2 separate regions of the Homo sapiens genome follow, and region 1 is linked to region 2. Evidence: fine-mapped expression QTL. A gene starts in region 2. The other region holds a variant in brackets. All regions are shown on one strand. Distances are between the middles of the regions.

Region 1 (5,377 bases), 30 kb before region 2:
GACTCTTTCTCACGGTGAGCCGAGTCTTTAAAAGCGATTGCCAGATGATCTCTAGAAGTTTCTTTTAGAATTATTATTCAGGATTCTATGGCTTCTGGATGAGAACATCTCATTGACAATAGGATGGATCCTAGCTCCACAACTTCCTGGTGTCTGCATTGTCTAAAAAGAAAAACATACGTGGGAGAGCAATGTCTCCTAATAGTTACAATCATTGCTTAAAAGAGTTAGGGGAAAAAAGGGGGGACCTGTATCTGGGAAGGTAACTATTGCCAGAGACAATTTTTTGGTATTTATTTATAATGCATATCTTAATAATTAGAGCTAACCCCACGGTTGGCTTGGCCACCTCTTCCCTACATTCCCCCCAGGGTTGGGGTGTAGGGTTCCTCTAGTGCAAGGGTTCTCACCTAGGGCAGAAGACACATGATAAAGTCTCAAGACACTTTTAATTGTCACAACTGGGTGGCATCTACTGGGTACAGGCCAGAGATGCTGCTCAACATCCTACAATGCACAAGAGAGCCTCCAAACAAAGAACTGTCTAGCCCCAAATGTGAGTAAGTATCAAAGTTGAGAAATCCTGCTTTAAAGAAAGAACCTGGTGGAGAGAACCAAGTATATCTGGAGGGAGGATATCCTGGTGGAATATATCAGGTATATCTTGGTAGGTAGGGAGGGCTTTGGAGAGGTGTGGCAGACATCCTTGGGTGGCCAGTGCAACCCACGTCCACAGTCATCTTTGTAGCCACCTTCAAGTTACAGGTAGCCACATGACATTTCTGAGCAATGAAATGGAAGAAAATTTGCGGATGAAACTTCTAATAAAATCACTGTGTTCTTGACCTTTGGGTATCTTTTCCTTCTTCCTGCTTGGATTGCAAACCTGCCATCTGGAGGCACCGTGGCCGCTTTCAGGGCCATAAGTACTCAAATTAACAGCTAAAGAGGGTGGAGCCAAAAGCCAAAGGCAGAAAGATCTGTGAACCCAGGGGAACGTTTGACAATGTCTGAAGACTTTTGGTTGTCACTGGGAGAGGAGGGCTAGTGGCATCTACTGGGTAGAGACTAGGGATGCTGCGCAGCACCCTACAGTGCATGAATCTGGGGTTACCTGCCTGAGGATCACTTGTAGTGGGGGCTTAGGGGGCTGACCAGCTGTTTAAGCTCCTGTGAGCTGGGTTTCCTTTATTTGTGTCTGAGTTAATTTCAGGTTGCTACAGTAGGAGAAGTTCTTTGATTCAAGCCTGTTACAGGGCTATTTCCAGACAACGCCTCCTTTAGATGACTTTTACCGGCACTTTCCAAGGTGGTATTGGGTTTCCAGTCCCATCCTTGAAGCAGGGAGAGGATAACCATTCCTTTGCTTCTTTTGCCAGAAGATGCCAACACCAACGGTCCCCTCCACCCACGTCACCTGTGGGTTCGGCTGGGTCCAAGATCACAGGCCTGAATGAGAGGTTAGAAGGCATTAGGAGATTCCAAATCCCAGTGACTTCAGAATTTGGGGTCCATCCTATAATACTTTCAGCAATAAGACAATGTGTTCTTACAGCTTAGATGTCAGCAACTCAAATTTACTAGTAGGGTTCAAAGTAACTTTCTAGAGGCCGCGTGCAGTGGCTCATGCCTGTAATCCCAGCACTTTGGGAGGCTGAAGTGGGAGGATCACTTGAGGGCCAGGAGTTCGAGAACATCCTGGCCAACATGCAGAAACCCCATCTCTACTAAAAATACAAAAATTAGCTGGGCGTGGTGGTGCGCACCTGTAGTCCCAGCTACTTCGGAGGCTGAGGCAGGAGAACCAGCTTGAACCCGGGAGGCAGAGGTTGCAGTGAGCTGAGATTGTGCCACTGCACTCCAGCCTGGGTGACAGAGTGAGGCTCTGTCTCAAAAACAAAAACAAAAGCCAAAACCAAAGCAACTTCCTAGAATTAAATTGTATTTGCCAAAAGCGTTTTGAAAGCTGTTAATTGCTATACTCATGAAGGCATAATGAAGGCATAGTCTAAATATCTCCTCCTTGCTATGTCAGCTAAAATATGATACATAATTTAATCAAATACAATGTTGCCAAGAACCCAGGGTAGGCAACCCACCGGGGGTCTCCTTCTCTCTTACTTCTCCTCTATTCTTTTTCAACGCTCCTTTATTTTCTCTCTTTCCTTTCCTCTGGTTTCCATTGTTTTTGTCCCTTGCTGGTGGCCCTAAGCAGATGGATATGATTTCTTACTATTCTTGAAGGTCTGAAAGAGTAGATAAACCCTAACCCAATAAAAACCCTGCAGGATAAATCGGCCCGTGAATGATAGCGTTAATTCTTAGGGACACACTTCCAACTCTAACACCTCTTAGATGAAAGCAGCTCAGGGACGTGGTATCTTGAACCTTCCTTCTCTATTTTTTCTGAACAGCATTTTCTCCTGCCCCTGCTAGGTTTTATCCCTGGAGACTGTGACAGGTTCTGTTGGCTAGCACTTTCCCCCGTCATGCAAGGAATGAATCGTGACCCCAGCAGAGGAAAATCCAGGTTGCTGAGACAGTGTTCAAGGGAATCAGGTTAAGAAAAGTACGGGGCTAGGGTGAAGGCACCTGGTTTTCTGCAACTGGCTCAGTAGAAACTTCCTCACGGTCTCATCTTCAAAGTTGTAATTGACCTTCCAGAAGATGCAGAGCTGCTGATATTGTGTGACCAGCTCCAGGACTGTCCGGAAACCTTCTGCAGTGTCAAAATCCGGCACTCCACTCCCCTGCTCCCAGGCATAGATGGTGAGCAGCTCCAAGGCATACTTTGGGGGCAAAGACCCCTTTGGCTTCAGTTTCCTTTCACACTAGGTAAGAGTGGGAACATCAGACGAACTGGTTAGCCTAGGAGCTCAGTGAGAGCCGCACAGGGACCACAGCAAGGCAACTGAGTCACAGTGTCGTGCTGGTGTGCTCACACTCT[G/A]CAGCTTGGATGTCTAAATTGTACAGCCTACAGGAGTCCACCTGGCAGCAGCACATTTGAGTTTCTTTGTTGTGCTTTTGACCATATATGCCTTCCTAGGACAATAACATAGCTACAGTTTACTAGAAACCCACTGCATGCCAGCTATGGGCCCAGGCATTTACCCACATCATTCCTAATCTTCCCCACAATGCAGGCAGCATGACCTGCATTTTAGATGAAGACTTTGAAGCTGCGGGAAGTGGAGTGACTCACTCAAGGTCACGCCACAGCCCCAAGTCTTCTGACACGCCATGCCAGCTCTCTGATTTTCTGGGATGAAAACTACAGAGTTTGGTCTTGGTTTCACATTTCAGGGAGCTGGACACAGAAAGGAGGCATCTCAGGAAGAGCTGATATCGTGCTTGATGTTTACTGTCATGAGGATGTTCAGAAGCTACTTTGTGTGCAAGTGAGGGGAAACTGGGTAGAGACTAGGGATGCTGCTCAGCACCCTACAGTGCATGAATCTGGGGTTACCTGCCTGAGGATCACTTGTAGTAGGGGCTCAGGGGCTGACCAGTTGTTCAAGCTCCTGTGAGCTGGGTGTATAGAAAATGCAGCCCCGGTTCCACCTACAGCTTCAACCTGCCTTCTGAGAGAGAGCATGTGCGCCGGGAAGCAGAAAAGTCCTATTGGCAATGTGTGGGCATGTGAATCCCAGCTTCCACCCACCCTCTGTAGGCAAGGTCACTTGGATTCCTGCAGAATTCTTTGGCCAGTGTGAGGGCAAAGTAAACCACATGTAGCAGCTTTGATGGGCAGAAGCCATCAACGCCTGACCCAAATGAATAGGGTTAGTGATGGGAACGTCGTAAAGATATCCAGTGGGCAGATTCTCCAAAGTGGCTCAGCCCTCAGCATGGGAGATTGTGGGCAACAGGGCTTAATGTTCATGGCTTACTGGTAAAAATAATAACCCCATGGTCAGAACAAAGACTGTCCTTACCTCTTTGTACCAGTGCTTCACCAGGCGAATTAAATCCTTTAGTTTGGTGGGCCGGGAGCGAATGAAGTTTCGCTGCAGGACTGTGAAACAGGTAGAAAACTCTCCTCCCGGGAGGTCCGAGGATTTATACAGATCAATGAGCCCTGCATAAACCTCGGGGCTGGGTGTGGAGCCAGAACTCAGCTGACCTGGCATGAGGGAGAGATTGACATCCTGCTTTAATACACATAGTAAGTAACAGATTCCAAAACATTTTTGACAAATATGATTTAATTCTTGGAAATTACTGTGAATAGTATTAGCATATTTAAAAGACTGATGTCTAAGACACAGGGAGCATCTCCAGAATAATGAGATATGTAAAAATTATGTGGTCTACACAGGTGCAGCTGGTATTATTAAAGTATTATCTAGACTTAAACTAACAGAGCAGCCACCAGCAATGTGGCCATTTGCACTCACATTCATTAAAGGGAATGAAAATTAAAAATTTAGTTCCTCAGTTGCTGTAGCCACATGTCAAGCTCTCAGTAGTTGTAGAACCCAGACATAGAACATTTTCATGATCACAGAAAGATCTCTGGGACGACACTGATCTGGACTTTGTGAACTACCGCCCCCTGGGCTAAATCTGGTGCGCTGCTTCTTGTTTTTTTTTTTTTTTTTTTTTTTTTTTTTTTTTGTTGTTGTTGTTGTTTTTTGCTTTTTTGAGACAGAGTTTTGCTCTGTTGCCCCAGACTGGAGTGCAGTGGCATGATCACAGCTCACTGCAGCCTCCATCTCCTGGGCTCAAGCAATCCTCCCACCTCAGCCTCCTGGGTATCTGGGACTACAGGCGTGTGCCACCATGCCTGGCTAACTTTGTTTATTATTTATTTATTTATTTATTTATTTATTTTTGGGATGAAGTCTCACTATGTTGCCCAGGCTGGTCTCGAACTCCTGGATCAAGCAATCTTCCCGCCTCGGCCTCCCAAGATACTGGGATTACAGGTGTGAGCCTCTATGCCCAGCCCAACTGCTTGTTTTGTTTGTGTGTTTGTTTGTTTGTTTTCAGACGGAGTCTCACTCTGTTACCCAGGCTGGAGTGCAGTGGCACGATCTCGCACTGCAACCTCCACCTCCCGGGTTCAAGCAATTCTCCTGCCTCAGTCTCCCTGATTACTGGGATTATAGGCACACAGCCCCATGCTTGGAAAAGAGAAATGGGACCAAAATTGTCTACAAGTGTGAAGTATTACTGCCATGACTAATGCCACTTGCTGGGGCCAGGGACCCATGAGTGGCACATGTTTTCAGAGCCCGTAATCAAGTCACGTGGCTCTCCCTCCACCTTCTGTCCACCATCACTTCCAAGCTAAGGTCTGGGGAGCCTTACCCAGTGCATTAAAGGCAGGAAGCACATCAAAGCTGACACTTTCGTTGAGGACTTTGGATTTCAG
Region 2 (5,377 bases):
CCAAAAAAGGGATAACTGCACCCTCATGTTTATTGCAGCACTATTCACAAAAGCCAAGATATGGAATCAACCAACGTATCCATCAGCAGCTGAATGGATAAAGACAATGTAGTATATATACACAATAGAATACTATTCAGACACAAAAAGAATGGAATTCTGTCATTTGCAGCAATGTGCATGGAACTAGAGGTCATTATGTTAAATGAAATAAGTCAGGCATAGAAAGACAATATTGCATGTGTTTATGTGGAAGTTAAAAAAAGTTGATCTCATGGAGGTAGAGAGTAGGATCATAGTTACCAGAGGCTGGGAAGTAGAGGAGGAAATGAAGAGAAGTTGGTTAATGGATACAAACATACAGTTAGATAGAAGGGATAAATTCTAGTGTTTGATAGCACAATGGGGTGACTATAGTTAACAATAATTTATTATATATTTCAAAATAGTTAGAAGAGAAGATCTGAACTGTTCTCAACACAAATAAATGATCAATGTTTGAGGTGATGGATATCCTAACTACCCTGATCATTTCACATTGTATCCATGTGTCCAAATATCACATGTACCCCATATAAATATGCACAATTATGTAAAAATAAAAAAACACAGTAGAATGGACAAATGTGGAATATTCACATAATGGAATTGACACAACAATGAAAAGATAAACAACTGTACCCCACAACATAAATTTCATAAACATCATAGGTCAGAGAAACCACGCACTAAAGCACACAGAGCCCATGATGCCATTTATGTAGGGTTCACCCATGCATCCTGGTTTACATTCCCAGCTTTCACACCAAGAGTCCCACATCCCAGGAAACACCCCAATCTTGGATGAACTGGGATAGTTGGTCACCCTATAATTGTAAAACGTTTAAAAACAGGCAAAACGTGTCTATGCTGTTAGAAGTCAGGAGATTGCCTACCTGGGTTTGGAGGTGCTGACTGGATCGGGGGCCCAGGGCTCTGGGGGGCTGAGAATGTTTTGTTTCTGGATCTGGGTGGGGGTTACACAGTTACATTGTTTGTGGCTACCTATCAAGCTGGACACTTTGATCTGGGCACTTTTTCTGTTTTACTTCCATGAGGAAAAAAAAATTGAGAGGCAGGATAGTGTAGTGGTTAAACATGCATGCCCTCAAGCCAATTACCCAGGCTTAAAATCCCAGTTCTGACAATAGCTATTAACCAAACTTGCCTTAGCTTGCTGGCCTGGGCCAGGGCTGGGGACACCACGTGTCTAGATTTCTTTATTGAGGCACTAGCGGATGTGTGCAAGGGGTAGAGACCAAAAAGTGTGGCAGCAGCAGAGAAGGGACGTCAGCAGCTCAGGAGGCTAAGAGGATAGTATTGGGCCATCAGGACCCCCACGCCCCCAATTCTAGGGTCCTGGCATCTCCCCAGTCCCCCTTCCTCCCCAGAGGTCCAGAATTTTCAGCCTCAGTCCTGAGATTTGTGTCCACAAAACCAAATATTTCTAACTGATAAAAGCCACTCCTTCTTGCTGCGGAGAAACCACAAGGCAACCTGGGTAGTTTGAACAAAGTTCTCTAGCCTCCCTAAGTTTACTCCTCTGTACTGTGGAGAGGATAGAAGAAAATCGCAGTGAGTAATCACAGTGAATTCACTGAGCACTGCCAGTCTTTTGCTAAGAACATGATGTGCTCAAGCCTTACGATACTCTGAAGTGGGTATTATGCCTCTCCCCATTTTACAGAGTCAGAGACTGAGGCACAGAGAGGTTAAGTAGCCTGCCCAGTGTCACACAGCTCTGGAGCAAGCGCCTGCTCCAGAGCCTGAGACTCCTACACCACATCCCACCCAAGTGTGGGCCTCGCACATAATAGGCACCCAGCACCCAGTAGCTCGGCCTTGCTGCCGCCGTGGAATCTCCTGCCTCCCAGAGACCCAACCTCAGCCCTGGACTCACTATGGCCACTCCCTGCACCAGGGGGAACTGTTCGGGTTCCTGCAGGACGTCACAGATGGTGTTCACCATCTCGTCGATCAGTGTCTGACATTCTTCGTAGGGCTTCAGGTATTCCTGGATAAACCAACCCAGCTTCTGAGCAGGCACCGAGGACAGCTGGGACTCCCCATTTCCCATTGCTCTCAGCTGGCTGCCGGCAAGACAGTGAATGGTAGGATGGGAGGCAGAGGAATTCTTGCTGCTGCCCAGAGCCAGGAAACTGAAACTGAAGTCTAGAGGCCTCTCTCCACCCACTGCAGCGAGCTTACCAACTCTTGTATCCGGGACAGGGAAACAAAACTAACTTAAGCTCAGAGGCTCTGCCCTGCCCCTTGCAGTGAGTTTACCAACTCCTGCATCCGGGGCAGGGAAACCAAAACTAACTTAAGCTCAAATGCTCTTCCCCGCCCCTTGCAGCAAGGTTTACTGACTCCTGCACCCCAGCAGGGAAACCAAAACTGACTCAAGCTCAGAGGCTTTCCCTGTCCCCGGCAGCGTGGTGACCAGCCCTTCAGGGGCTCCCCAAAACTTGAGGTTAACTAAACAGCCTCTAGAACCCCATTGTGAGGGCTTCATACCTGCTAGATGTCTGTCCTTGAGCACATCGCCTGCCCTCTTCGCGCCTCAATTCCCCCATCTGTAAGCTGGGGGAAAATGGCAGCTCTCTCGTAGGATTAGCTTGATGATTAAATAATACCTGCAAAGTGCTTAGAAGCAGGGGCGCACAGGTCATCTTTTGAGGCTCTGTCCCTTTCCCCCTGTTCTCAGTGGCCAGGGAACTCACATTCAGGGAAAGCGGCAGAGAGGAAAAAGAGACCCAGAGAGGGAACTGACTTGCTCAGGGACACACAGCAAAGCAGGGACCTAGCTGGACTCAGGTTTTGGTCTGCTTCTGGGTAAACACAGGCCCCCGTGTGGTCAGCGGGTGGGAACCTCTGTGTGTCCAGTTTCTCAGCACACTTGTGGACAGCCGAGGGACCGTATGAGGCACTTGTCCAGCCTCGCAAGGGCAAGAAAACACACCCCAAGTGTGTGAGCCAGAAAGGAGACAGACATGCAACTCCTGTGCCCAGAGCTTTGAAAACAAAACTCGCAGAGGACTCCCAGCCAGCTGCCTTGGCCCAGCAATAATAATTCACAGAGAAGGCAAAAATCTCCAAGATGTAGTGGGGGACCAGGGCCCTTCCATACTGGGATGGTTAATTTTATGTGTCAAGTTGGCTGAGCCCAGGTACCCAGATATTTGGTCAAACATTATCCTAGATCTTTTTGTGAAGGTATTTTTTAAAGATAAGATTAACATTTACATTGGTAGACTTTTTTTTTGAGTAAAGTGGATTATCATCTGTAAGGTGGTGGGCCTGATTCAATCAGTTGAAGGCCTTAATAGACTAAAGACTGAGCTCCCCCAAGGAAGAGGGAATTCGGCTGCAGTGCCTTGGCCTCCACTTGCAGCAGCAACTCCTTCCTGGGTCTCCCACCTGCCAGTCTACCCTGCCGATTTTGGATTTGCCAGCCTCCACAATCACATGAGCCAATTCCTTAAAATAAATACCTCAAAATAAATATAAATACCCTGTTAGTTCTGGAAAAACCTCGATTAATGCACATGCTCATTAAGGGCCTTTCCTGCCCTTATCCAACTTTTACTGCAACACCGAGAGGTAGGCAGGCTGGGCAGGCGTAGTCCTAAGGTTCCTTTTTCAGATGAGAACATGGAGGCTCACAAAGGTGGAAACATTTGCCCGTGATCACACAGCTAGGAAGTTGTCAGGCTAGGTTCTCACACTAACACACTGCCTGACTCCAAAGCCTGTGCTTTATTTGTTATTTAAAAAAACACTTTATTTTGAAGTAATTTGAAATGCTGAGAAAATTTACAAGATGCACACAAAGAACTTCCTTAGACTTTTTAGCCATTATATTTTTTACCACATTTGCCCCTCATTTTCTTGCTATTTATACATTTTAGGAGGTTTTTGTTTTGTTTTGTTTTTGAGACAGAGTCTCACTCTGTCACCCAGGCTGGAGTGCAGTGGCGTGATTATAGCTCACTGTAGCCTCACCCTCCCAAGCTCAAGCAATCTTCCTACTTCAGCCTCCTGAGTAGCTGGGACTATAGGCATGCACCACCATGCCTGGCTAAATTTTTAAAATTTTTTGGTAGAAATGGGGGTCATGATGTCACCATGTTGCCCAGGCTGGGCTCGAACTCCTGGCCTCAAGCGATCTTCCCACCTCAGCCACCCAAAGTGCTGGGATTACAGACCTGAGCCACCACGCCCAGCCCTTCATGAGTATTTTTATTCCTGAACCATTTGAATGCATGTTGCATGATTTATGTCCCTTTACTCCTAAATGCTTCAACCTATATCTCCTAAGAGCAAGAATATTGTGTTACAGAAGCACAGAACAATGGTCCAATTCAGACTTTTATCATTGATACAATGCTATCATCTCATAACATATATAATAAATATAATTTTGTATAATTTATATAATATATAATTTATATAACATATATAATAAATATACGTTTATTATATAAATATTGTATAAATATATATTTTGAGACAGACAGAGTCTCACTGTCACCCAGGCTGGAGTGCAGTGGCACAATCTCGGCTCACTGTAGCCTCAACCTCTCAGGCTCAAGCGATTCTTCTGCCTCAGCTTCCTGAGTAGCTGGGACCACAGGCACACACCACCATGTCTGACTAATTTTTGTATTTTTTTGTACAGGTAGGGTCTCACCATGTTGCCCAGGCTGATCTCGAACTCCTGGGCTCAAGTGATCTGCCTGCCTCGGCCTCCCAAAGTGGTAGAATTATAGGTGTAAGCCACTGCATCCAGCCATAAATACATTCTTATATTGAAAAATTTACCAACGATTCCAATACTCTTCTTTATAGCATCCGCACCCCCGCCAACATCTAGGCTCACACATGACATTTAGCTGACGTATGTGACAGACGTGTTTCCTGGGAAGCCCACTAGGAAAGCAATGGTGATGTTTTTACTGGGGGAAGTTTCCTCGGCGTTCATTCTTGAGGTATTTTGATGGCGTAAGTTGAGTAGCTGCCTGCTTGTGGCCCATCTAGTCTGTCCCTATGAACACCAAGATTTAAGGGTCATCTCCATGTTCTGCAGGCCAGCCCCTCCTGGCCAATCCTGGGCCCTACCACTCATGGTGAGCACTGTGTCCCCTAATGGGTGCCATCTCCTGGCCTCTCTTACTCCAGGGTTCCACCATCCCTTTTGCTATCAGTGAGCCTAGCTCCCAAGGGGCCTCACCCACCATCCTGTGATGGCATCTCCTGCAGAGGAGGCTTTCTGAGCTTCTCTGTGATGCTGGCTGGTGTTCTCTTCCTGGTCCATTCCTCGTGGACTTGGTAAAGG

Evidence for each region.
Region 1: its variant is fine-mapped to the expression of OAS2 in whole blood (TOPMed, PIP above 0.99).

The regions. Positions count from the first base shown.
Region 1 is chr12:113,005,159-113,010,535 of GRCh38, reverse strand. It overlaps OAS2 (2'-5'-oligoadenylate synthetase 2), which reads right to left. Exons shown (of 10, transcript NM_002535.3): 7 at 5,314-5,377; 8 at 3,936-4,123; 9 at 2,593-2,831; 10 at 1-1,449. The coding sequence ends at 1,281. Among named protein-coding and RNA genes, the nearest start is that of OAS2, 29 kb to the right of the region's middle. RefSeq lists enhancers at 685-854, 2,601-3,800, 4,233-4,402. The variant G/A (reference allele first, on the strand shown) is at 2,948.
Region 2 is chr12:112,975,348-112,980,724 of GRCh38, reverse strand. OAS2 (2'-5'-oligoadenylate synthetase 2) reads right to left here and starts at 2,206. Exons shown (of 10, transcript NM_002535.3): 1 at 1,940-2,206. The coding sequence starts at 2,116. RefSeq lists enhancers at 1,042-1,191, 1,302-1,381, 1,552-1,631, 1,852-2,661.